Homo sapiens: one gene and its partners. The protein of the gene in region 1 purifies or fractionates together with the protein of each later gene. This does not show direct contact. Each region holds a gene or a part of one and is shown in the gene's direction. Other genes may lie near its edges.

Region 1 (7,028 bases):
CAAAAAATACAAAAATTAGCTGGGCATAGTGGCACACACCTGTAATCCCAGCTGCTCGGGAGGCTGAGGCAGGAGAATCACTTGAACCCGGGAGGTGGAGGTTGCAGTGAGCCAAGATCACACCACTGCACTCCAGCCTTGGTGACAGAGTGAGTGACAGTCCATCTCAGAAAAAAAAAAAAAAGAAGAAGAAGTGATGGGGTCAGGGGTTGGAGGACGTCATGCAGAGTGGTCCATTGATGGGACAGAGCCAGGGCAGCTCCTAGCCCATCTACTTACCACCTCAAGGAAAGATGGTCACCTTTTCCAGAAAGGCTGTTTCCTCACCCCTCAGACAGGCAGGCCTACTGAAACTGGCCAAAGATGGACTTATAAAATATAATTTCTTGGGTGCAGGATGGATGGCTTAGAGGGGAAAAGGCTCCCTGGGCTTGGATGTCCTCCTCTCATGGTGGGAAGGAACATTCCTCTTTCTGCAGGATGGAAAGAGAAGTTTTTCCTCCATCCTCACACACTGGCTTCCGCTGTCCAAAGGAGTGTGACTGCCCCCTCCACCCCTGCCTGGGGTGGGGCTGAGACAGATGCTTTGCCAAGGGTGGCTCGGCTCCTATCCTCCCAGCTGGCTCTATTGCAGCCTGCCAGTCTATCCTTCACTCTCATAAGGATCCCTCTCACCTATGGGGCCCTGGTACTAGTGGTCAGTAGCCCCAGTTACCATGGAGTCTGAATCATCTCTAATCCCTAAGGTTCTCCAGATAGACAGTGGGCTGAGTGGTTTCCTCCCAGGGAGGCTTTCCAGAAAGCTGTGGGTGTGGAAGAACCGTAAAAAAGAATCTCTTAAGGAGAAAGAGAAAACCCATGAACCTATGAGATGAGAGGGATTCAGGAGCTCTGGCTGGGAAAGTAAAATTGAATAATAAGACCTAGCCTGCCACTCAGTGTCTGAATTTTGCCTGTGCAGGCCCCATAACAACAAAGAAAATAGGGCAGCATGCCCACTCTCATCCTCCACCGGCAAATTCCAGCTAGAAGGTATTGGTTAAAGACCCTTCCAGATGCAAGGGTCAAGAAAGGAAGGATAAAGACAGACAGGCAGAGCCCAGGAGCCCTGAAGCAGGCCTGGCAGCTGCTTTACAAACAGAACAGCTTCTCTGCTTTCAAATGCTCTTCTTAAAGTTTGGCCTTCTAGGCTACCCTGGTTGCACTGGGATAGGGGTGGGGGTTGTGAACTCCTTGGTATTTATTTTCTGTTGCCTCGATTATTCTGACATGTACTGAGTGACTGCCCTTCTCTCATACTGAGATCTTTCAGGTGGAGTGCTCAATGACTGGTCTCGCATCACTATGAACCCCAAGGTGTTTAAGCTACATCCCCGCAGCGGGGAGCTGGAGGTACTGGTGGACGGCACCTACTTCATCTATAGTCAGGTAGAAGTGAGTACGGTCTTAGGCCTAACTCTTCTTATATCCAGAATGCAGATCCGGTGCAGGCCACATAGGGGCACTGTGGAGCCAGCCAAGACCATCCAATGGCTAACTTCCTGCTTTGGGTGAGGGGGTGGGGGGACCGCACTGGGAGGGAGTTGAAAGGAGGAAAGAGAGAGGGGGCCAGCTTCTTTTGTTTTGTTTTGTTTTGTTTTTCCTTAGCCAAATATTATTGAAAAACTGTGAAAAAGACCCCTCCCACACCCTGCCATCTGATTCCCTCCTGCAGGGCCTCAGGCCCCTGTTTACCCTCTGAGCTGTTTGGCTGCACTGCCAAACTTGAACTTGGTCTCAGTACATTCTTTGAAAGTCAGTTCCAGGGTTACTGAGAACCCTTTCCCTCAACACTGCTGGCTCGGACGTTGTAATGAATAGTGCTCCTGCAGACTTTCTTTCCACCTCAAAAAGATTTCTGACTGTCTTTCCTTCCTCTTTCTCCCATTTGTTTCCCTATCTTTCTATTCCTCTATTCTTGCCTCCTTCCTGCTGTCATTCTCCCAGCCCTTTCTCCCTCTGCTTTTGTCCTCTTCCTGCCCTGGGCCCGCTCCCCAAGTCCACCAGTGTCCATCTACTTCCGTTCCCCCATTGTTTGCCTCCATGGGAGTGGCTCCTTGGAGATAAAGGAAGATGAGCCATGAGGTTGGGATTTTTGTGGGATGGGCAGCAAGCAGGCAGGTGGACAGAAGGACTATGGAGCCAACAGATGGGTGTCACATGAGAGCGGCCAGAGAAGGTGGGCTAACAAGCATCTGCTAGGCACACTGAGCACCCCGCTGTAGCTTGGGTCCTGACCCGTATATGGCACCCAAATATGCTGTTCCCACCTGAAGAGCTGATAGAGGGAGTGACCTTTCATAAAATGATTTACGGTGATATCTGAGAGTCCCAACACCCATGGGGCACATGGGCATAACCCTGATGTCCTGTGAGCCAAGTTCCACGTGGTGGGGGTGGGCGGCAGATCAAAACTTGGTGTGAGGTATGATGGATAAGGGTAGTGAAGGATGGAAAAATTAATTTTCTGAGCCTAGGAGAGAATTGAGAGTGGCCCATGCAGGCTGGGAAAATCCCCATGACATTAGGCCACTGAGCATAAGTTAGTGCTTCCTTCTGGCCACAAAGTTAGGGGCCTGGGCTTTTCCAAATTCTTTGTCTTGTTTGTGGTAGCTAGCTCTCGATCTCTCTGGACCTGTTTCCTCAATCATCAGATGGGAGGCCCAAGGGGCACTGTGAATCAGTGAGGGGAGTCCAGGCCCAGGGGAGGGGTGGTGCAAGCTGAATAAGCTTCTGTTAAGGAGCTCAAGAAATCACAAGTTGTTACATGCCCTCTCTGGGGAATCAGTGACTTCTAAGTTTCTCCACAAATAGTCCGTGGGGCTCAAGAATGGAAGTCAGTTTGTGTCCACGGCACTGTGTACACACCTGCTACGTGCAGAGCACTCTGCTTCATGTCAGGGCTGGGGCAGGGGTGGGCGGGGGAACAGGGGCACGGTGAAGCTGCAAATAGGGCATGGTTCTTAGCCTTACAGAGTTTGCGACAAGTGTGCTGTTGTAAGAAAAGTTTGCTCAGCCAGCTGAGCCCCATGGACTAGGGGAAGAACAATGCCTGTCACCTGTCCTTTCCTGTTGGCCAGCTAGCACGCCTTCACATGGCACTGCCCCATCCATGGGGTATACTAACAGCTCATCTGAGAAGATTCTGTCAATTCACCACAGGGAGGGCCCCCCACCCTCTCTTTCCTCTCTTCCCCAATCCCTTCTTGTTGCCTCTCACTCAGGTATACTACATCAACTTCACTGACTTTGCCAGCTATGAGGTGGTGGTGGATGAGAAGCCCTTCCTGCAGTGCACACGCAGCATCGAGACGGGCAAGACCAACTACAACACTTGCTATACCGCAGGCGTCTGCCTCCTCAAGGCCCGGCAGAAGATCGCCGTCAAGATGGTGCACGCTGACATCTCCATCAACATGAGCAAGCACACCACGTTCTTTGGGGCCATCAGGCTGGGTGAAGCCCCTGCATCCTAGATTCCCCCCATTTTGCCTCTGTCCGTGCCCCTTCCCTGGGTTTGGGAGCCAGGACTCCCAGAACCTCTAAGTGCTGCTGTGGAGTGAGGTGTATTGGTGTTGCAGCCGCAGAGAAATGCCCCAGTGTTATTTATTCCCCAGTGACTCCAGGGTGACAAGGCCTGCTTGACTTTCCAGAATGACCTTGAGTTAACAGGACAGTTGATGGAGCCCCAGGGTTTACATGAAGCAGAACCTTCTTTGGTTCCATGTTGACTGACTTATGGCATGACTCTTCAACCCCGAGGTCCCTGTTGTCAGATCTATTGTTTGTTGCACTAAAATGAGGATCCAGGGCAGCAGGCCAGAGAAAGCAAAGGTGCACTCCAGACTCTGGGGGTGGACATCTGACCCCAAGGGGGCTGCTGCTCCTCTCTTGGGTAGGGTAGTGGCTGGGGTGGAGTGGGAAGGGAGCATTGCAGCCTAAGAAGAAGGCCAGAGAGGGAAAAGGCAGGTGCTTTTGGCAGAGACCATAAGAGAAACCTGCCAAGGAGCATCCTTGGCAGTGGGAATGTTCTTTCTGCTCTATACTGTGGCCTGCAGGAGGGTTGGAGTGCTCTTCCCACTCCAGCTGACAGCCACACCGTGGCAGCTTGCTGGGCTTTGGGAAGTTTGCTGTGCTTTGGAACAATCACAGGGAATGGCCACAAACCTGCCCGCCTAAGACCCTGAATCCGTACTTGGGTCACATGACTCTCATTTTATTTACAGCTGTGCTCCACACTCAGAAAATTCCCTGGGGTCACCTTCTAGTTGCCCCCATTCCCAGCCTGACTAGAACTCCTGTCTTCTTTCTCCATGGAGCCTACCTCTGTCTGAGACAGGTGCCTAACCTGGGACCTGTGGTCATGTGAGTCTGGGATATTCTTTAGCTTACCTGGGCACAAACAGAATTTTCCATTTATTAAGCAGTACAAATGTTTTTCATCCATTCCTAATCAAATTCTGTCTGGGGACGAAGGGTTGGACGGGATGACCTCCAGAAGTCCCTTCAATTTCTAGTACCTGTGACTCTTAGCCCTCACCACAGCCTTCTAAATTCCCAAATCCTAGACTGCTCCTGGGCATTAGCAAGGCAGAGCCTTTTTACCTGGCCTAGAAAGGGCAAGGGGTGAGGATAGGACAGAGGGATTTTGTTCAAGTTTGCTGCAACCCAAGTGGACGTTAGGCCAGGCCTTATCTGAAAGGCCAGCAGCTGATGCTGTACTAACCCAGTCTTTCTTCACTCTGGCTTCAAAAAGCCACAGCAGAGCATTGTCACCGCAGGTGCTCATGCTGCTCCCCTAAAGCCAGGCTCAGGAGAAGCCAGTGTCTAGGCACTGAGCAGGGATCTGCCCCCTAGTTCAGGTCCAAATTCACCTTCCCCTAAACCCCAAGCTTCCCAACAGATCATATGGTAGGACCCTCGAGAGCCTTACTTCAAAGTGCCTGGGCTCAGCCTGGTTTCTGGGTGCTAGATCCAGCCCAAACCTGGGAAGGCCAGCCTTGTACAGTCTGCTCCTCTTGTTCCTGAAATGTGTTTCCTTTTCAGGAGATGGGGAATAATTTCCTTCAGGCAGCTGAAATTCACCAAGAACAGCGGGTACTTATTTCTCAGCTGTGCCTTCCCTTTCTAAGCAACCACACTGCTTGGCCCTTCAAGGGTCAGGGTGAGACGTGATGGGCTAGGCCTCCGTTGTCTGGTTGCTAATGACAGCCTTGCAACCCAAGGTGAGGTGAACTCCAGGCATGTGTCTGGCCCTAACTCCTATAAAGTGCCTCGGACAGTCCGCAGTTGTAGCAGAAACCAACAAGAACCACTCCTTCATGTTTGGAAAATAATTTCTCTTGTATTATCTCCTTTGAAGAAGGCAAGGCTGATAATATGACAAACATCATTGTTTAGATGAGGCTCAGAGAGGTAGCACTCTCAGAGTGTTTTGACCAGTTTAAGCCGCAGACCTGGAGCTTCAGCCAGGTCTGACTCCAAAGCTGTTCCATTACACCACAGCATTGTGTGGAATTTGAGGTCTAGAGAGAACCAATAAAAGTGGTAATTGGGAACTGAAATCCTTGAGAGTTCCGGGGAGAAACCCAGAGATGCCTGATTTCATTCCTCGATGGTAATACCCGTCCTCTCGGCTGCCAGGGGCTCTGTGGCAAAAAGAGTCAGACATTTCTTTGGAAAACAGCGAACAGCCTTAGAGCTCTTGTGTTCAGAAGAATCTTCCTGGCACAATGTTGGAGCAGCAGGCCTCTGGGACCCACAGAACTTGTGGCCTTTATGTTCTTTCACCCATCCTAGGAACCAGCCAACCATCATGTGTAGAGCCCCTACTGTGGGCAAAGTCCTCCTTTCATTACCCTACAGACAGCTTACAGGAGCCAGCCTGCTTCCCACAACTACTAGTGTGACTCCTTATCTCTTTCCACCATACCTTAGAGACTTTGATACTACCAGGGTCTCTCAGGGATGGAGGGAAGACCTGAAAGAGAGGACTGGTTCTGAGGCCAGAAAGGTGTGAGGAGAGAGGAGGAAAAGTCTTCCTAATTGTGCCCCTAAAGAGCATCCTGATACCATTCTATTCTCCAGACATGGAGGGGATGATAAAGGAAATAGGATCTCCACTGGACCCTTGATTCATTCTGAACCCTCCAAAGGAACTCTAGAGGGCGAGGGATGATGAGGGAAGCAATAGGTAGCTGGGGAGCCCTATTGCTGCTAAGTCATTGGCAAAGTGACAAAGCAATTTACTGATGAGAGAATGTGGAAATAGATGTGCAGTTTGGAATTATGTTGGTGTGAATTTGCCAGAGGACCAATGCTTGCATGGAGAATGGGACGAGGACATTTGTGGGCAAGCAGATGACAGAGGTTTGAAGGAGAATGGCATGGCAGGAGTCTCTGCCAGTTACTTGGGCTTCAACAGCCAAGCTGGCACAAAAGACAGCTGGCGGAGGCTGCTCGGCTACTGGTTACCTGGAGAAGTAGTATTTGCCTATTTCCCCCTTCATCCATCCTGAGCCAAATTTCTTTTGCTGAACAGGAAAGAGCTAGGAACCCTGGAGGTAAACAAAGACTTTGATCCATGTATGAGTGTATGTGTTTATGTAACTTCCTGTGGATGCAAATAGATTCAGAGAAATTTAGAGCTAAAAAGGCCCTTAGAGGGAATCTAGCCCAACCTACATTCCACCCTGTTACTTATGTAGAAACTGAGGCCCAGAGAGGGAAGATGACCTGCCCCAAGTGGTGAGCAAGCACCAACCTCCAGACTCAGCAGAGTGAGGGGGTAAAGCAGTTCCTGTCCCACATGGCCATCTTCTTTCTTCCACCCACAAACTCCAGGCTGGAAGTACTTGGCCCCCTTCAGGAGCCTGGCCAGGCAGGGAGAGAGTAGCTGCAGCCTTCATCAGAACTCTTCCTCCTCCCAAGGCATTCTCCCAGCTCTAGCCTCTGGACTGGAAAGCACAAGACTGGCCCAGTGCCAGCAA
Region 2 (7,028 bases), on another chromosome or scaffold:
TGGAAGAACTAGAAGAACCCAGGAGTTGTGATCCTAAACAACTTTTAACTGGGCCTTGTTATGATTTCCACGTGTGATACTTTACTCATTCTGAGATTAACAGTCGCACTGGTGAAACTGACAGCCGCTATATGGCCATACTAATGTAACTTATTACAAGACAGGAAGTGAGAAGAGTTGTTTGATCTAGTTGAAACCATGGGGGAATTTGGGAAAGCAGAGTAAATTTGCTAATTTGGAAGTCTGAGACTTCAGAGCTTGTTATTCTTGAAGCAGTTGTTAAAAGTCAGTGGACATCCTGATTCTCAGGTCTCCGATGTGGATGTGCATCCTCTCCGGCAGCATGATTTTTCCAGGACCAGAATGTGACAGGAGCGGCCCCGCAATAGAATTGCAGGCTCACAGGCCGGCTGCAGCACTTGGCTGTATTGCGAGGCTCCTTTCCAGCTGCTTAGTTCACATGATGCCTGGTTTATAAAACCTAGTGAAGTGTTTTATTTTTTAAAAATAAATCACTTTTGGGAAGGAAATGTGTGACTTTTTCTTCTTTTAAATTATCATTCAAAATGAGAATTTTCCTCTTAAAGAGGAAATCTTTTTGTTTTAGGAATACATTCCTGACTCTTAGGTGACCCGGGTATTGGAATCTTGTGGATAATTGACGTTATCTAATGTAATTTAGACTCTAGTAGAGTCTGTTCAGTTTTGGATGTCAAAGAAATGGAAAGATGGTGAAACAACCTGGAAACCATACCTTATCATGAACAGCGGAAGTATCTTGAAAGTGTGGCCCTGAGAAGAAAAAAACTGAGGTGAAAACTCGTAGTTTTCAGATAATTGCAGGGCTGTTATGTACACTTGCTCTGCAAAACAGAGCTAGGAGGCAAATTTCAGTTTAGCAAAAGAAAGAACTTTGGAATGATCAGAGCCATTCATGAATAGAATGGACTTTCTCAAAAGGAGTAAATTTTCCTTCATTCTATGAGTTCAAGAGGGTTGCATGACCCTCTCAGAGGTCCTGGAAAAGACATACTGACATTGCTGGAAGGGAACATTGAATAGCCACAAACATTTCTTGCTAAATAATGATCACGCATTCCATTTTGTAGTGCTTTATAGTTTACAAAGTACATTCATGAGCGTTAGTGTTTAATTAGTCATGCCTAATTCTTACAGCCCTGTACCTCCAGTGGTGTTATCCTGATTATACCATTAAAGAATCAAGATCAAAATTAATTAACATGACTTAATCTACAAATGACAAAATTATAATCCAGGTCTTCTGGTTTGAAATCCAGTGCTTTCCCACAATGCAGATAATTTAGCACCTAACGTTAGCCTTTTAAATAAAAGGACAAAGAGTTCTTGGAATGCTAGCGTCTTAAAGATAGTCCAAAGGAATTTTCAGGTGTGCTAGCTTGTCCCCTTCATTTCATTTTTTTCCCCTCAACTCTTATTCACTGCATGAATGTTAAGAAATAGCACAGCAGTAGGGGTAAAGATTTTCATGTACTGTTCTTTGTTATATCAAGTATTATTTTGTATAATTCTTTCAAATTCTTGTTGATAAGCACATAATCAAGATTCAATTTTGTATTCTGTGTATTTTATCAAGTTGAGGAAATTAACCCAAAAGATTTAAGTTCCTCTTGTTTGTAGAAGAAGCTAGTAATGACAGTAGTACCATAAGCCAGTCTAGTGCTTTCTACCAAACAGACTGCCTAAGAGAACTATGGTTATGCTGCATTCCCTCGTTGTAGAAGAGTAGCCCAGAAACACATGGACAGGCCAGATCCTTATTCTCTGTAGGCACATTCTTTTATTTATTTATTTATTTTACAGTATCTGAGTGATCAATGTGTATATTCTGTCTCCATCAGGATTATTTTGGAGTCTGTTCAGAGCCAGTGATCAAAGACAATGTAGTTGTGGTTTATGAGGTATTGGAAGAGATGCTTGACAATGGTTTTCCATTGGCTACCGAGTCGAACATTCTTAAAGAACTCATAAAGCCTCCTACCATCCTTCGAACGGTTGTCAACACCATCACAGGTACGGCAGAGGGGGAAACTGATAGATAGTGGCCATCCTACAGCCTGAGTGGCTTAGTCGAGTGTCGCACATTGTTTTGAGTGTTTGTCTTTGGGGATCTCAGGTGTCCCAGTGCTTTAATTTTGCTCTTTGTAGTTGTTTTTTTTTTTTTTTTGAGACAGAGTCTCCCTCTGTCACCCAGGCTGGAGTGCAGTGGCGTGATCTTGGCTCACTGCAACCTCCGCCTCCTGGGTTGAAGTGATTCTCCTGCCTCAGCCTCCCGAGTAGCTGGGATTACAGGCATGCACCATCACACCCAGCTAATTTTTGTATTTTTAGTAGAGATGGTGTTTCACTATGTTGGCCAGGCTGGTCTTGAACTCCTGGCCTCAGGGGATCCACCTGCCTCGGCCTCCCAAAGTGCTGGGATTACAGGTGTGAGCCACCGCGCCTGGCCCCTCTTGTAGACTGAGTACAACCTGAAATAATATTTTTGCTTTGTGGAAAATACCCTGATTTTAATGACAAAATGAAGTGTTCTTTAAAAATATTTTTTTCTGATTACAGAAGAAACACATGATTATTGTAGAAACTTCAGAAATACAGAAAAGCACAAAGAATGCAAAAATTGCTTTTAATCCCACCACACTTTTAACATGTGATATTTTATGAACATTATCCCATGATGATGTCTTCTACATGGTTCTTTTTTTTTTTTTTGAGATGGCGTCTTGCTCTGTTGCCCAGGATGGAGTGCAGTGGTGCGATCTCAACTCACTGCAACCTCCGCCTCCCAGGCTCAAGCGATTCTCCTACCTCAGCCTCCCGAGTAGCTGGGATTACAGGCACACGCCACCATGCCCAGCTAATTTTTGTATTTTTTAGGAGAGATGGGGTTTCATCATGTTGACTATGCTGGTCTCTAATGCCTGACCTCAAGTGATCCACCCACCTTGGCCTCCCAAAGTTCTGGGATTACAGGTGGGAGCCACTATGCCTGGCCTTCATTTTTAATAATTTATAGTTTTCTTCCATGTGGAGTGGACCCAAAGTTACGTACTGAATCCCTATTTATGATGTTACTGATTTTTGTTCTTTTAAATAACAAGGATTACCATTCTTACACTTGAACCTTGGTGCACATCTGGGATGATTTCTTTAAAGTAGTAGAGGTAGCAATGCTGTGTCAAGGGGTGTATACATTTTAAGTACTGTAATGTGTTGCTCTCCAGAAAAGTTAGGCCAATTTATACTTTCAGTAACAATTTCAAAGCACTGTAGTGAACCCTGTTATTGTCATTAATAATTTTTTAGAAACATTGGCAATTTGATAGTTTATTGATATCTTGTATTTACAGTCATTTTTTGTTATTAAGGAGACTAAAATCTTTTCAAGTATTTATTGACTGTTTTTCCTCTATTGTGAATTACCTTTTCATGTCCTTTGTTCATTTTTTTGTTGTTGAAATGTATTTCTTTTTTCATGTGGATTTAAAATCTCTTTTATGGGAGATCTTTATGTCTTTTGATTACTGCATTACAGATATTTTCTTACAGTCTATCACTTGTGATTTAGCTTTGTTCTGGTGGTGTTTAGCCACATTTTAAATGTTTTGATTTAATCAAATTAATCATTCTTTTCATTAAGGTTTTACATTTTGGGTCTTGTTTAATGCATAAGCAAGCATTTTCATGGAATTTTATAAACTGATTGAAAAATACATTTTAAAAGTATAAATATTGCAAGAATAGCCAGGACAGTTTTGGAAAAGAATTACAAAGGGGTTGTTGGGAGGATTTGCCCTGTCAAATATCACGACACGTTAAGTTTGTATAGTACACAAGACAAATATTCATACAGTAGACATCCTACAAGACCCAAGAGAGTTTTGAAAATAATATTTTTAAAAAGAGGAAAGATAAAATGTGTCCTACCAGATATCAGATATATTACAGGTTTAACATCCCAAATCCAAAATCCAGAATGCTCTACAATCCAAAACTTTTTGGATACTGACATGACACTCAAAGGAAATGCTCATTGGAGGATTTCAGATTTTTGAATTTGGGATGCGCAACTGGTATAATCCAGATATTCCAAAATTTAAAAAAATACAAAATTTGAAACATTTCTGGTCCTGAACATTTCAGGTAAAGATTACTCAATCTGTATGAAGTTTGGGTAGTTTTTAAAATTTGGTATTTGTCTGTAACAGACAGATAGGTCATTGGGATAAAATAGTCCAGAAACAGACCCTTGCTTTTATAGGAATTTGGTGTAGATAGATGTGGTCATTTATCAAATCAGTGGACCAGGGGCTGGTTGTTAACTATATTGTATTAGGGCAGTCAGCTTCAATATGGAAAAAATTAAGTCCCTCCACTTCACACTATACACAAAATAAAGTCTAGCTAGGTTAAGGAGTTAAACACAGACTTTATAATTATTAGACAAAAACAGGAGAATGTCTTTTTGATCTCAGAGAAGGGAAGATCTTTTTTAAAAGTCTAGTTTGTGATTTTATTTTTGGATTTAATTATTTAATCCATTTGAAAATTATCTTGGTGTGCAATAATGTTTATTTCTTCAAGAGTTTTCCTAGCACCATTGTGTAATTTATCCTTTTCCCCTGTTTTAGAATGACATTTCTATCTTGTCCTGTCATTATGGATTCTTGGTCTGTTTTTAGGCTTTCCTGCCTTTTCCCTAGACTGCTTTGATTATTATATCTTGATGATACATTTTAATACATAGTTCCTCTTTTTAAGGAAACAAATTTGGTGGTTTCTTCAATATTCTGAGTTCATTTTAAGCCTTAAAAGCTTTGTTAGTGCCTGAATCATTTACGAATATTATGAAGTGAGTTAAGCCTGTATCTCACTTTAATCTAGAAAAGGGTATCTAAGAACCACTTTTGAAAAGTTGAAATGGGCCTGACATATTGGCTCATGCCTGTATCCAATACTTTAGGAGGCTGAGGCGGGAGGATCACTCATGCACAGGAGTTCGAAATCAGCCTGGGCAACTTGATGAAACCCTGTCTTTACAAAAAATACAAAAATTAGCCAAGCATGGTGGTGCATGCCTGTGGTCCCAGCTACTCTGAAGGCTAAGGTGGGAGGATCACTTGAGCCCAGGAGGTCGAGGCTGCAGTGAGTTATGATTGTGCCTGTGAATAGCCACTGAACTCCAGCATGGGCAACATAGGAAAACCCTATCTCTTAAAAAAATTTTTTAGGTGGGCATGGTGGCTCACATCTGTAATCCCAGCACTTTGGGAGGCCGAGTTGGGTGGATCATTAGGTCAGGAGTTCAAGACCAGCCTGGCCAACATAGTGAAACCCCGTCTCTACTAAAAATACAAAAATTAGCCGGATGTGGTGGCACGCGCCTGTAGTCCCAGCTACTCGGGAGGCTGAGGCAGGAGAATTGTTTGAACCCGGAAGGCAGAGGTTGCAGTAAGCCAAGACTGCACCACTGTACTCCAGCCTGGGCGATAGAGCGAGACTCTATCTAAAAAAAATTTTGTTTAAAGACAGAAAATAAAAGGATCCAGGTAATGGAAGAAGGAAATAGAATTTAAATTAATGTATTTTATTATGTCAGTATAAAACCTTTTAAATTAAAAAAAGTTTATGCCTGTAAAGGAAAAAACAAGTGAAGGAATTGATCTACAATTCTTAAAGACAGGGAGAGATCAACTTTGTGTTCTTTTCCTAAGTTTCAGTGTTGGAACTTGGGAATGAGACAGATCATATTGATATGTACATTTTAGTACCTACCATAAATGTACCTAAGAACCTATCTCAGGCTCAAATACTGTTTTTACCCATGAAATTTTTATATCAATATGTAGATTACGAACTCTACTGAAAGCCAATACATTATTTAAGCTGCATCTGAGATACTAAGTTCAGGTTACTTTCAAAACCAAAATATGATATCTGTTTCTCAGGTAACTTTTTCTTAAACCTTTATTCTGTTTGAAAAGGCAGACCAGATGGCAACAAGGGGTTTTAAAAATAGACTAGGTTACCCCATATAGAAGTTGGGAAAAACCTCATCTTCTGTTTGAAAAATTCTTCAATTGAGTGCATGAATAGTGGGAGCATAGAAACTTCTAGGGAGGTGTTCTGTGGTTTCTAGAGTCAAAATGGTGTTAAAATACAGTAATATTAATTGCCTCAGGAAGCACGAATGTGGGTGACCAGCTTCCCACTGGGCAGCTGTCAGTGGTGCCTTGGCGACGGACTGGGGTGAAATATACCAACAATGAGGCCTATTTTGATGTGATTGAAGAGATTGATGCAATTATTGATAAATCAGGTAGGTGCTTTTAATATGTTCTCAGAAATATGAAAATAGAAAGGGACCTCTTTCATATAATGCTTGTAGTTTCAGAATTAACCCCCATTCAAGGTCATCCACTTCAATTTAGTGCCTACTTTGTGCCAGGCACTGTGCTGGGTACTGGGAATGGACGTTAATATTATGATGCAGACCAGGGTTTATTTCATATGTTTACTTGCTTTATTGGTCTTATCCTCTTGAATAAAAAAGAGAAGTAACAGGCCAGATGTAGTGACTCACGCCTGTAATCCCAGCACTTTGGAAAGCTGAGGCGGGAGGATTGCTTGAGCCCAGGAGTTTAAGACCAGCCTGAGCAACATAGTGAGACCCCATCTCCACAAAAAGTGAAAAAAATTACCTGAGCATAGTTGTGCATGCCTGTATTCCTAACTTTGTGAGGGGCTGAGGTAGGAGGATTGCTTGAGCTTGGGAAGTTGAGGTTGCAGTAAGCCCTGATCATGACACTGCACTCCAGCCTGGGCAACAGCAAGACCCTGTCTCAAAAAAAAAAAAAAAAAAAAAAAAAAAAGTAACAAATTAATTTCTTATTGATTAAATTACCTTCTCGAAAGTATTTGGCTCCCAGTTCTGATGGCAGAACTAAAGTTGTAATCACAAAATTCAGGGAGCTGCCTTTTCTATGTGT
Region 3 (7,028 bases), on another chromosome or scaffold:
CAAATTCTTTCTCTTATTATTTTTTAAAGAGGTAGGGTCTCTCTGTGTTGCCCAGGATAGCCTCTAACTCCTGGGCTCAAGTGATCCTCCTGCCTCAGCCTCCTGTGTAGCTGGGACTACAAGCATGTACGCCATGCCTGGCTTCTTTCTTTTATTTTTATCCCTCATTTTGAAAATATTTTTACAATTTAGTTAATATTCTTATATGAGATCTGCTCAGGGATTTTTTATTCCCTTCAAGAGGAAGGGACACTTTGATAGGCTATTGCTATTGTGAACTGGACTATTAAAATGCTTACTTTAAAAGCTTTTCCTGTTGTACTTATTATCCCACAAAATATTATTTTTATTTTACAATCTAACATGTGACCAGATTCAGTTATTTACTTGAGAAGAATTGAGCATGGATTTTGGTATAGCAAATACTGAGTTTTAAATTTTCACTCTGGTTATGAATAAATGATTTTTTTTTAACAGATCAAGAAGTTGGTATATGTTTACCTGGTTCGATATGCTGAAGAACAGCAGGATCTTGCACTCCTGTCCATAAGCACTTTTCAGCGAGCTCTGAAGGTAAATAATGGAGTGAGTAGGCAAATAGCTACAAGGTTTCTGCAGAGTTGAAAGTGTGTCAGTTAAAGAAGTGGAGCGATAATCCACTAAATAGCACAGTAGTGTCTTGAAAGAGTTAAAAGCCTCCTATAGTGCCTACTCAGTACACTTAGAAAATAATTTATACAACCAACTGAAACCTTGCTGTATATGTTACAGCTTCTGTATGTTTGTTTATATTCAATATAATTATTTTCATGCTTCAAAGAGCTGTTTATCATTATACTAGTTGTTGAAAGTACGCAAAAGGGGTTATAAGACATTTTTAAACATGAAATTGATGACCTGCAGCATTTTATTATTATGAAAGTATAAAAACCCAGCATATTTAGTAATAAATGACCAACTAGAATTATAACTATTACTTTTCTTTAAAACATTATTAAAGAAGTAAACATTTATGTCTGTCTTTTTTTCCCATTCCTATATACTAATTGTTCATTTTAAATTAAGTAGCTTTCTTTTGCTATTGTCATATTACACCCTTTAAGCACCTATTAACTGTGTCTGAAAGATATGTTTAAAATATTGTAAAGTTGAAATTTTGGTGAATATTTTTGCACTATTTTTAGGACCCAAACCAACTAATTCGTGCAAGCGCTTTGAGAGTTCTGTCAAGTATTAGAGTGCCAATTATTGTACCTATCATGATGCTTGCTATTAAGGAAGCTTCTGCTGACTTATCACCATATGTTAGGAAGAATGCAGCCCATGCAATACAAAAATTATACAGGTAGGTGCATTGTTAACAATATACCAAAGATCTCTGATGTTACATGGAATGTTATAGACCACAGAGGCTTGTTTTATTCGCTCTTTTAGGTAGGCTGCTCTTACACTAAGTAAATCCAGTGACTGTATGATGGTATTTCCCCCTGCTGCAAATGTTCCTTACACATCTTTAATTTCGTTTTGGCTATAGAGACCCTATGCAGGTTTTTATTTGTGAGGCTGTTAGAGCCTGTGATAATTTATAGATTTTATAACTTAAGAATAATCAGAATTTGAATTCTCATTTATATAGTCTATCTCATGTACACATATGCTTGTATTATTAGAAAATTGAGATTTTTTTTTCCTGTTTAGGGTAGAATCTTAAGTGTCTGATCCTCTCAACTCACTTATATGTGTTTTCCTTTCTTCCATCTTTGTTCCTGCTGCTCCCTTCGTTGTCTAATTCTTTTCCAGAGCTATTTTATTAAGTAATTTTAAAAAGTGTAGTGATTTGAAATATAGTGTGCTATACCATATCTGTGTGATATTTTAGAAATGTTATGCAATATTATACAATGCCCTGATCTCTGTGGAAAATTTACTGTCCAAATAGAATTGTCTACAACAATTTGGTATTATTTTCAGCTATCATTTATTCCTCAAGCTTTTTGAGACTCTCTTCTGTTTCTGGTGTTGTATTCACAGTATTGTGCTATGTGTATTTAGATGTATGAAAACAGTAGAGGATGTGGCACTTAATTATGAATAGCATATCATGTATTTGAGGAAGAAGATCAAAGACATACCAAATAATTAAAGGCAATCTATAATGAATAAGATATTAGCACTTGATATATATGTATATACAAAGGTACACTAGCAATGTCTTTGATAGGACAGGGACCAGAGATGATCATATTTTGTTACCGGAAAGTAAAGATGTAATGAGATGGGATTGGTAGTGAAATACTGCTTTGAGAAGGAAGACTTAAGCTGAAATTTGAAAGAATTAAAAAGTTTGTCCAGATAATTATAATGTTTAGTAATAAATGTGTATGTTTGTAGAAAGTGAAACCTCATATTCCTATGTTAACTGCCAGACAAGGTTTTATCATGCTTCTCACTCACCTTTTCTCCTTAGAAACTTATGGGATAAGATCCATGCTCACTCTAACGGCTTAAAAGTCCTTCTATCATTGGGCACCAGTATATTCCAGCCTCAATGCTTGCCTCTCCTTGCCTTGAGCTTATAGTCTGTTAGTATTCTATCTCAAATGTTTTAAGCTTATTACTACCTCTTATTTTTCCTAGTTTTAGTTGGCAGATTTTATAATGCATGTCTCTATCAGTGAACTAGTATGATATAAAATTCTTATTTGGAAATTCTCCATATTTGTTTTTGGGAAGTATGTATGCATAGTAAAATAATGACTGCTATCTAGTTATTTTTTTCCTCCCAGTTGAAAAGAGTTTGTGGTTTATCTACTTACAGTCGCTTTCTTGAAGTTTTCCAACTCTTTTAGAAGTGAACTTGTTCTTTCAGTACTATCTTAACTAAACCATTGATATCTGGTTTAGTTAATATGAACAATATTAGAGGGAAAGATGAGGACACATTCATGAGAAAAACCATCCCATTTTATTTGTTTTTCTTTATTTCTAACTTATAATTCTTGCTCTCCTTTCCCTCTTTAAAAATTTCTCAACATCCTTGAATTGGTGAGCATCATGTAAAGCTAGAATTAAAGGGAAAAATTAATATGTTATTTTTGTATTTTTTAGCCTTGATCCAGAGCAGAAGGAAATGTTAATTGAAGTAATTGAAAAACTTCTGAAAGATAAAAGCACAGTAAGTAATGTCTTTTTACGTCTTTGACATAAAAATGTACTTTATTTACATAGTATCATTTACCATTATATATTTTATATAGTTGTATTTATTGATTTCAAAATGGTATAAATATTAATGGCACACAGGACTATTTTTAAAGAACAAAAATTTTCATGTAATGAGAAAGACTGCATTTGGAGTTTTAGATCGTTATGTGTTTCTTCATCAGAATCTGAAAAAAGGCAAGTTGAGAAAAAAATCTTTAACCTGTGGCTAAGTGGTTAACATGGTAAGATCAAGGAATAGAGGTGACCTATGGGGGATGTGAGTTACTAGTGTACTAGTATCTTAGATGGGGCTTTTGTACCCACTTTATATTTCTCAAAACTACTGAGGAAAAGGATTCCAGCTCATCTTAGGATGCTATCATCAGGGAGTATGTACTATCTATGCATGGCAGCTATCTAATACAGTAGGCAGTAGCCCTGTGTAGCTGTAACTATTGGTTTATGGCTTAGCATTTGATCTATCCTGGATAATGTTCAATAAACATTTGATTAGAATGTGTATTCTGCTGTTGTTGAGTGGAGTGTTCTATAGATATCTGTTTTTTAGTGTTGTTCAAATCTTCTACTTTGCTGATCTTATGCCTACTTGTTCTATTCATTATTGAAAACAGGGTATTGAAGTCTCTTTAATTCTGTTAGTGTTTGCTTCATCTATTTAGGAGATTGGATGTTTGGTGCATGTATGTTTATAATTTTTTTAATCTTCCTTTTGTCATTGTAAAATGTTCCTCTTTATCTCTAGTAACATTTTTTTGTTTTAATGTCTGTTTTGCCTGTTATAAATACTACTATTCTAGCTTTTTTATGGTTGCTGTTTCCATTATATATCTTTTTCCATCCTTTTACTTTCAGCCTGTTTATATTTTTGCATCTATTGTATGTCTCCATAGACAGCATATAGTTGGCTCTTGTCTTTTTATCCAGTTTGCCAATGTGTGCCTTTAATTGGAATGTTTAATCCATTCACACTTATTGTTGTTATTAATATAGTTGGATTTTAAGCTGTCATTTTACTTGCTTTTATATGTTTCATGCCTTTTTTGTTCCTTATTTCTCCTTTATTGCTTTTTCTTAGATTAAGTGAATATGTTCTAGTGAACATTTTAATTCTTTTCATGGTTTTTTTACTATATATTTTTGAAAATATTGTCTTATACATGGAGATTATACTTGTAGTTTCATTCCTAGACCATTTAGTAAATTTCTGTTAGTCTGTAGTGTACCAGAAATCATTATTGCATTTCTTCTATGCATAGTTGGTATAACGTAGGAGGTAACTAAATATAGATTGATTATAAATGAAGATAGAGAAAAGAAATTTGATTCCTTTTTGTCTTCTGTATGACAGGCATGCTATCTGCCAGATATGAAGTCAATATTATTAATATTATGGTTAACTTGATTTTAATAATTTAAAAAAATACTTAGTGCTTTTCTATTATAAGTGCAAGAGATTGGCTAAGTACCATGGAGAGTAGTAAGATCTACAAGAAGCAGATCTGTCATTTTAATGAGTTTTACCATCATTTCTGCTACATTATAGACTAAGAGAAATTCTTTGGATGGCCTGGGAATGAACTCTCTCTGTATAATATGTGCATGTCTTCCCAGACAGGATACAGCATATCATAGGTAAAAACAATAGCGTTTGAATCAGATAGAACTGGCTTAATGTCTGAGCGTCTGCCACATAGTATATGTACCAATTCTTTATGAGTTTTAGGCTCCAGATTTGTAGGGTTTATAATATCTAATTTATAAATTTGCTGTTTGTGTCGAGAGAAAGAACTATTGTATATAAAACCCTCAGCACAGTGCCTAACACCACATGGGATGTGATTAAAAATTCCAAATAAGAAATAAGTACTCAAAAAGATGTAAAGATACAATATCTGTGTAAAATTGGAATGTCTGTTTCCAAAATACACCAGAAAGTAAAAAATATTGAATACTTGTTCATCACAGGTATTTAATATTTGTTGAATGACTGTTGAATTAATTTGTTACATTCTTGGTGATAGTAATTAAGTGTGTAGTATCGTTTTTAATGTCTCCCTCACCCCCCTGCAGTGGTTTCATGCTCAGTGTTCATAGGTAGATTCTTTGGGGGCTTTGGTGGCCTACCCTTTGTGAGGCACTCATTTTTCCTAAAGTGTTATATACTATATGTTTATTTTTTTTAATTAAGAATACATATTTCTTTTTCTGTCTATAGTAAAAAACAAAGTTTTTACTGACACCTGTAATTCTGGTGGTATAGCACAGAGTTCCTTCCAGCCTCCTTCCTTTTTATATTTGAAACTGCCTATTCAACATTAAGAAATGTGGCTCTGGCCACGCACCATTGTTCATGCCTGTAATCCTAGCACTTTGGGAGGCCAAGGTGGATGGATTGCTTGAGTCCAGGAGTTCGAGACCATCCTGGGCAACATGGTGAAACCTTGTCTCTACAAAAAAAAAAAAAGAAACAAACAAACAAACAAAAAAACAAGAAACAGGGCTCCTATTTCCACAATCTGTTTACATTTTTGCTGAGTCTCAGAATGCAGAGAAACTATTGCTTCAGAATTGCTAGCACTGTACCTCTGTGGGGTATACAGTAGCATGGGGCCTAATAATTAGAGTTAAATATTTAATTAGAGTTAAATATTAGTTTAGAGTTGTTTTTGTCTTTAATCTTTTTTTTAATGTATGGTAAATCAAAATTGCTTCAACTATTTATATCTTTGAACTCGTTGTGTTGGTATGTAAGAAAGCTATTGATTTTTTTTGAGTGATAAATTTTATATTCTGCTTTTTTACTGAATTCTTCTATTGTTTGAGTTAATTTTCTCATTCATCCTCCTTGGGTTTTTTTTTGCATGACAAAGAGTCTTTACTTTTAAATGATTATCAGTACACCAAGTAGTAACATGTAACAAGTTCTTGAATTCTGTCCTCTTTGATTAAGTAACTAAAACTGGCCCAAACAATTATACTAGTGTTCATTGTTCTAACCACTAGCAGGAATGGACTACCAGATATTGCAGAAAAAGGCCAAGACTTCACCCCTCTTCTGCCTAAACTGCTTCCAGATGGTTCTCTTCTCCTGGGTCTCCTCTACTTTAATGCTGCAGCTGCCTTGGGATCGCAGGGCAGCAGCCTCCTTGGCCTTGAACTCTTTCTCCCTCTGCAGGCAATATTGTTCAATTTCACCTTGAACTGCTGCTTTGGCCTGCTTCTCCCTCCGGTTCTTTCACTGCAGGTCTCAGACACCCTTTTCAGCAACCTGCAGCAGCTACTGGATCCCCTGAGACTGACTGGCCATGACAGCACCAACTCTGAGGCAGAAGCAAGCAGCCTAAATCTCTCTCTCTTTTTTTTTTTAGAGAATGAATCATATCTGCAAATAGAGATGTTTTACTTCCTCTTTTTCAGTTCCTAGAACTCTAATTTCTCTTGCCTAATTATATTGTTTAGTGCCATCACTACAGTTGTGTTCAATAGTAGTGGAGATGGTGGGCATTCTTGCCTTGTTTCAGTCTAAAGGAAATGCTTACATTGTGTTTGCATTAAGAAAGATGCTGGCCCTGAAGATTTTATCTTTGAAATATAGTACTTTTGCAAGGTACTTCAGGATTACTTGATATGGGTCAATTGTTTTGCCTTGGTACTCAGTGAGTCCTTTCAAAATGTAGATTCAGAATTTTTATTATCTCTGGCAAAGTGTTTTTTTTTAAGATTATAATTTTAAATATTAATTCTGTTATTTTTTTTCTTTTTCAGGGATTCCTATTTTATGCACATTGGATCTTCTTTGCCTG
Region 4 (7,028 bases), on another chromosome or scaffold:
TAGTCAAATTTTAAGATGTGTCATATCTATAATATAGTGGGTGATTTAAAAATAGATTTATGTATTTATGTTTATCTTAAAGTTTAAAATGTTACCATCTACCTCTGTATCTTTGATAGAGTTAGCAGATAGCTTATGTGGTTTTTTGCAGTTTAAAAAATGTTTTTTGTATTAAGTTTTACCTTGATGAAGGTATGCTGTTATGCATGGTAGCATGAACTAAGATGAATTTGACTTGGGTCTGTCCTGATGAAATGTGCAGTCTAATAGGAAAGGTAAGCATTTGCATAAGTAAAAAAGAAGATTATAATTATGAGAGACATGCAGATAAAGTGCTAAGAAATTTCAAAAAAGAGGTTACTGTCAGCTGAGGCATATCAGCTATGAATCAAGCTGGAAGTTTAAAAATCAAGATATGTGAAAGAAAACCTAAATAATTGACTTTGAGGTCCATTTATTTATTTTTCCCTCATAAAAAGAAGTCTAAAGGTGGGCAGTCCAGGGCTTGTTCAACTCCACAGTCATCAGAAGTCCAGGCTTCTGCCGTTTCACTCCTTCTTCCTCATGCACACAGGGTGACTCCTGGAGCACTAGCCATCACGTCCACATTCAACAGGAAGGAGAAGGGAAATGGTCAGGATACAAATCATCACATGTTGCCCTCTTCACAGTGTCTTATGAGTTGGGTAATATTAGTTTGATTATTATATAGTTGAGGAAAGTGAGTAAAGAAGGTAAAGTAAATTACCCAGTGTTATCAGATGATAAGAGGTAGAGTCAAGATTTGGATGCAGTTAGTTTCACTCTGAAAGCCATGCTTTTAACCTCTCTGATAACTCTATAGAGAAAAGACTTGAGAAAACAGCACGCCATTTAGTAAAGCCAGAAAAGACAGAAGTAGGAACTCTTTGGATATGTACTAGAAACAGTGATTCACTTTGGCTGGGTCACAGGATATATGAAACAGAAAGAAAGTAGGATTGATGCAGTGTCATGATGGGCTTTAAATCTATCCATTTGTTTCTTTATTCAGCCAATGTTGTATTTTCATTAGAGACACTGAGATGAAAGACACCTATTCTGTCCTTAAGGACATCACAGTTTAGTAGGGAGACAGACCATTGCCATACAGTGTTGTAAATGCTATAATAGAAGTACATGCAAAAAGTTGGTGCCACCATCTTTTGAGGGCAGCAGCACAGATGTCCCAGAGGAGGCAAATTCTCGGCGGGGTCTTTAAGGAGGATTAGGACTTAACCACCTCCAAGTTGGGAGGGCAGGGAGCCTAGACGGGGAACATGAACAAAGGCACAGCAATGTGAAAGAACATGCCACAATAAAGGACCCACTCATGGTACCCACGTCTTGACTGGAGATAAGGCTGGAGCGGTGGGTGAGTTAAGGTCACAAACTGTAGACGAGGGGCTTTTACATTTTTTACCATTGACAGAGTGACACTTTAATCAGCCAGCATCAAGTGTAGCAATATTGGGCAAGGTATGATGAATATTTATTTGGATTATGATAGTGACAGAAGAGAAGAAAATGAGGGGATAAATGTGAGAGCTATTAAAATGACATAGCATTGGGTCTGGGATCAGAGAGAAGAATGACATGCTAAGCCATTCTTACATTGCTATAAAGAAATACCTGAGACTGGATAACATATAAAGAAAAGAGATGTGATTGATTGACGGTTCTGCATGCTGTACACGGAGCATGGTGCCAGCATTTGCCTCTAGTGAAGGCCTCAGGAAGCTTCCACTCATGATAGAAAGCGAAGTGGAAGCAGGAGCATCGTATGACGAGAACAGGAGCAAGTTAGCGGGCACGGTGGTGCCACACACTTTTAGACAACCAGATCTCATGAAAACTTGCTCACTATTGCAAGGACAGCACCAAGCTGTTCATGAGGGATCCACCCCCATGACCCAAACACCTCCCACTGGGCCCCACCTCCAACATTGGGGATCACATTGCAATATGAAATTTGGAGGGGACACAGATCCAAACTATGTCAAATGAGTACCACTGGCCTTGGGTAACAGGGAGGATGACGATGCCATTAATAGAAGGAATGAAACACTGGAGGAGGAGCTGGTATAAGAGGCAGTTATGTTGAGTTTGAGCCATGTTAAGTTTGAAACAACATGCAGTGGTATCCAGAATAGCCTAGGAGAGAGGATGTGAGTGAGTCATCCACATATGTCAGATGATAGTTGAACCTGAAGCCATTAAACTGGCAAAGAGGAGGTTACAGAGAAAAGGAGAATCAGGAAATCTTAAGGCAGTGAGGCACATGAGAAATAATGGGTATAAAATATGACTGAGGAAACACAAATGGGAGTTGCTATGGTAGACTGCCTTTTCAAGGAGCTGCAGCAAAGTGAAGGCCATAGACGGTAGAACAGGAAAGTAGGCTTAAACAAGTTTGATCACGCATCATTGAAATTAGTCACTTACTGGTTTTTTGCCCCATTTCAGACTAATAGCTCCAGTTTTTTTACCACCTCAGCCTCCCAAGTAGCTGGGACTACAGGCATGTGCCACTATATCAGGCTAATTTTTTAAATTTTTTTGTAGAGATGGAGTCTCACTGTATTGCCCAGACTGGTCTCAAACTCCTGAGCTCAAGCAATCCTTCCACCTCAGCTTCCCAAAGTGCTAGGATTGTAGTAGGTGTGAGTCATCTCACCTAGCCTTTTGCATTTGTTCTAATGGGTGTGATTAAAAAGACATCACAGATACTAACTAGTTAGCTTATTATACCATAGAATAAATGATCTGATTTCTCTCTACATTTGTATATGTCTTACCTATAGTCACACTATGTTGTGTTATCAAAGCAATTTTACTATATCAAACCATAAATATATTTGCACGTAAGAAATAAGGAATTCACTCAAATACATCAGAGAAATTAAAAGTTGATGTGCAGTTTATTTCTGTATGAAATATGCACTCATGGAGCCATAATTTGCACAAAAGACCAGCCAATTCAGAATTGAATGGCATAATTTTGCTGTTTCAAATACCGCAAATGGCATAACATAACATTTGGATTTATGCATAATTCTTAAAGTTTATTGACACTTTTTATTTCTTTAATTAATTTAGTAAACTTTAGATCCTATAATAAATGATACTAAAGACCTGTGCATTTCACAGCATATCTATATATTAGAATGTTTAATCTGTCTATAAACATGTTCTTTATATGTGGTTCTAAGTAGCCCGTAATTCATTTTAAGCATCATGACACGATAAACATATAATATGTATGATACGTACTGTCCGTTTTTTATTCTTTGTGATGCAGAATATCTTTAATTTGTCCAAACCTATTTTATTATCTTGGTATTTTCCAAGATATTTGTAGTATGACTTCACAAAGTTTTTAAAATAATGAAGATAGGCAATAGGTTCATTTGAGAAGATCTTAATATACAGGTAATTTGTTTTCAGTGAACTCTGGCCTCCTTCAGCCATCTCATACCTCATCTTTCACTCTTAGGTATTTTAAGTAGAACAGACTGAAGTGTCATTGAATTTAACCTGAGTTTTAACCAATTTTCTTTGACTTGAAATTTTAAAATACAGGGTATATTCAGTTCTCGAGGAGAAAAGATCCTTATGGCAGATGCTGATGGAGCCACAAAGTTTCCAGATGTTGAGAAATTAGAAAAGGGGCTAAATGATCTACAGCCTTGGCCTGTGAGTATAAGAATGTAGTTTAAATAACATTCAGTCAAGAATGCAGGAGAGCTAAAGTAAAGTTAAAGGAGAGTTTACCTATCAGTTTAAAAACTGAGTGTTTTTGGTATGAAATCCTTATACAAATGGTACAGCCCCATAGAGGAACTGATCATTTTGTTACAAATATTGTCTGATTTTATGAGATTCACTTGACAATTACTTATTTAATATTGTGACCATTTCTCTCTCTTGGTTTCTGATTGCTTCTACCCAAGTTTTAATATTTATTGTGCATATTCAATTAAGACTTTTATTTAAAAGTATAGCCTGAATTCCAGGTAAAGATGTGAAATGAAGCTGGATCACAGAATCCAGTTTTTGATGAAACAAACAAAATCACAAGCAGCAATCACTCAAAAAGGATTATTTGAAACTTCACACCATAACTTCAAAAAGTGGAGGTTGAGGAAAGAAATAAAATCCTAGTACCATTCCTACCTTTTAAAAGCCATTTAGAGAAATAAGATGAATTTGGCAAACGCTCAGGATCCTGAGCGTTTGCCAAATACTTCCCAATCTGGAAAAAATGAATAAGAGAATGAAAAAGCACCCTTGGACAACATCAAACAATATACCTACCATCACACAATATGTCAAACAATATACCTACCACCACACAATACGTCAGAATTTCAGCAGAAGCAAGAAAACTTGCTGAGGTCTGCCATTTTTCAGGACTGTAAGCTGAATTGGGGACACAGATCCATGTGACTAGATCCTTTCCTGGATGGAGTGTACCTTGTTCAAGACACTCGACAAAATCTCACAAGACCAGGGAACCCAAGTAACCAACAAAGCCACGTAGAGCTCCAGGGGAGGGTCCCTCCTCCCTGCCTTCCCACCGTCTACCCTCAAGTCCAGATATAATACTCAGGCCTTGAAATTCTAGTTTAGAGGGGGAAGAGATACAGGTACATCAAGGAGAATGTTCATTTACTGTAGGAGAGCTGCCCATGTTAATCATGACAAAATAAAAGAAAGAAATGGCAATCACACCAACATATAATTACACAAAAAAGAATTAAAGTTGCATACAAAAGATTTAAGACAGTGTAATCCAAGGAAAAGGACAAAATTACATGCAAGTATTCTGGCTAAAGAAATAAAACAATGAAAATAAGAATTTAGCAACACAGGTCTTCAAAGGTAAGATGACAAAACAACAAAATGGTATTAAAAGAAAAATTACAGGCCAGGTTTACATGCCTGTAATTCCAGCACTGTGGGAGGCCAGGGCAGGAAGATCACTTGAGGCCAGGAGTTTGAGCCCAGCCTGGGCAACATAACAAGACCCCATCTCTGTAAAAATAAGAGAAAAATTAACAGGGTGTGGTGGTGTATGCGTCTAGTCCCAGCTACTTAGGAGGCTGAGGCAGGAGGATCATTTGAGCCCAGCAGTTTGAGGTTATAGTGAGCTGTGATTGCCCCACCGCACTCCAGCCTCAGTGACAAAGCAAGAGCCTGTCTCAAAAAAAAAAAAAAAATTACAGAACTAAGGAAACAAATTGAGACCAAAATAAGATGAATATGTAAAACTATCTATGAATGAAATAGACCTAGTTTAGAACTGAATATTATTACATATTTATTAAGATCCTGTTATAGCAAAAACCAAACCAAACAACACAAAAAGGTAAACATATAAGGCCCCCCCAAATTTAATAATAATTACAGAAAAACTCACTGCATATCCTTCTAGAAATAAATATTTATTTAATTCCACACTTTGTGAAGTATATTTCTCCCCCACCATCATCCATCCCCATCCCTTGTATTTCTAGCTGTTTTTTTTGTTTTTTTCTAGGTGTTTTTTGTTTTTTTAAGATTCTAAGTGAATCAACTAATATAATTCTTAAGAGAATTAGCTGTAAAGATATTCATACCATTGCTCTTCAGACAAGTAGCACTAGCTGCATGTGTCTATTTAAATTTAAATAAAATGAAAATTTAGTTCCTCAGTTTCATTGGCCACATTTAAATTACTTGTTGCTAAAAGCTACCTTTTTTTTTTTTAAAGGAGATAAGGTCTTACTGTGTTGCCCAGGCTGGACTCAAACTCCATCCTCCTGCCTCAGCTTCCTGAATAGCTGGGACTACAGAAGTGAGCCACCATGCCCCGCTTGTTGTATAGCATTTCCATCATCACAAAAAGTTCTCTGGCTTATAACATGATATGAATTTATTGTTGGATATGTTGTAGTTCACTCTTACTAAAAAAGTATTTCATGTCCAACATCTTAGTAAATCATGATAGGCTAAAAGGAAAATCTCATTCATAAAGTTACTTGGTGTGATTTCCTGATTTTCTCCAGAGGACCCCAAGAGAAACTTGATAAATATTTCCCTTGCATTATCTTTCTAGAGGGAGTCACTCAGTGGGAGGGAGGGCATAAGGCATCAGATTTTTAGCAGCTGATTTTGTCATTCAGCAGTAGGGCAAAGATAATTTAAATGATTTTGCTGATGTTAGGGAGTGAACCAAACAATAAAACAAAAATCTGAACTTTATTCTTATAAATCTAGTTCCTTTATACTACTCTGTAAAGAAAAGGAGTTCTGATGCCATATTTTTTCCTTATCATAATCCCATTTACTACACTGTTACTAGAAATGTTAAGTTTTAAAGAATTAAAGCATGTGATTATCATTAAGCTATTAATTCGTAGCCTTGGTTTTACAGCACCTTAAAGTATCCCTAATTATTTAAGTGTCCCAGCTCAATTGAATTAATTTGAATTAAATTTAGTAAGTTTTATTAATATGCATCATGTAATACTCTTTGCAGGAGGTGGAAAGGAGGCAAATAAATGATAGGTGGTTAAAGTTACAAAATTCATAGTTTTTGGATCCACCCAGTGAAAAATATGGTTCTGACAAAGCTTATAAACAGCCAGTCATTGCTCTCAGAAAACTTACATTCTGAAGTTGACATGCATAGAGAAATTAGAAGAAATCTTCTTACTTATGTAATTCAGGTGTTAGAGAACTTTTTCTGTAAAGGACCATATAGTAAATATTTCAGCTTTAAAGCCAGTCAGCCTCTGTGGCAGCTGCTCAACGCTCTATTGTAGCATGAAAGTAGACATAGATAAAATACATCCTTTATTTACACAAATAAGCAGCAGATCAGATTTGGGCTACAGGCTATAGTTTGCTGACTCTTAAATCTAATTTAATCATTTATCCAATATTGGAAAGTTTTTACAACTACCTAGTGATCTTTCAGCCTCTACTGCATAGCTCTAGTGATGCTTAAGCAGCTCATTCTGTCT

What was found.
Region 2: the proteins of EDA (region 1) and AP3M2 purify together in Homo sapiens (affinity purification with mass spectrometry; 3 studies listed by BioGRID and IntAct, with this or other methods). This does not show direct contact.
Region 3: the proteins of EDA (region 1) and AP3B1 purify together in Homo sapiens (affinity purification with mass spectrometry; 4 studies listed by BioGRID and IntAct, with this or other methods). This does not show direct contact.
Region 4: the proteins of EDA (region 1) and ALG5 purify together in Homo sapiens (affinity purification with mass spectrometry; 4 studies listed by BioGRID and IntAct, with this or other methods). This does not show direct contact.

The regions. Positions count from the first base shown.
Region 1 is NC_000023.11:70,032,095-70,039,122, forward strand, and holds part of EDA (ectodysplasin-A), read left to right. Parts: intron 1-1,303; coding exon 1,304-1,434; intron 1,435-1,986; coding exon of another isoform or gene 1,987-2,106; exon of another isoform or gene 2,107-2,952; intron 2,953-3,263; coding exon 3,264-3,515; 3' UTR 3,516-7,028. UniProt on the Homo sapiens protein: Cytokine which is involved in epithelial-mesenchymal signaling during morphogenesis of ectodermal organs. Functions as a ligand activating the DEATH-domain containing receptors EDAR and EDA2R. May also play a role in cell adhesion.
Region 2 is NC_000008.11:42,156,061-42,163,088, forward strand, and holds part of AP3M2 (AP-3 complex subunit mu-2), read left to right. Parts: exon of another isoform or gene 1-812; intron 813-1,880; coding exon 1,881-2,052; intron 2,053-6,220; coding exon 6,221-6,358; intron 6,359-7,028. UniProt on the Homo sapiens protein: Part of the AP-3 complex, an adaptor-related complex which is not clathrin-associated. The complex is associated with the Golgi region as well as more peripheral structures.
Region 3 is NC_000005.10:78,221,689-78,228,716, reverse strand, and holds part of AP3B1 (AP-3 complex subunit beta-1), read left to right. Parts: intron 1-477; coding exon 478-573; intron 574-1,184; coding exon 1,185-1,345; intron 1,346-3,108; coding exon 3,109-3,175; intron 3,176-7,028. UniProt on the Homo sapiens protein: Subunit of non-clathrin- and clathrin-associated adaptor protein complex 3 (AP-3) that plays a role in protein sorting in the late-Golgi/trans-Golgi network (TGN) and/or endosomes.
Region 4 is NC_000013.11:36,982,313-36,989,340, reverse strand, and holds part of ALG5 (dolichyl-phosphate beta-glucosyltransferase), read left to right. Parts: intron 1-3,600; coding exon 3,601-3,714; intron 3,715-7,028. UniProt on the Homo sapiens protein: Dolichyl-phosphate beta-glucosyltransferase that operates in the biosynthetic pathway of dolichol-linked oligosaccharides, the glycan precursors employed in protein asparagine (N)-glycosylation.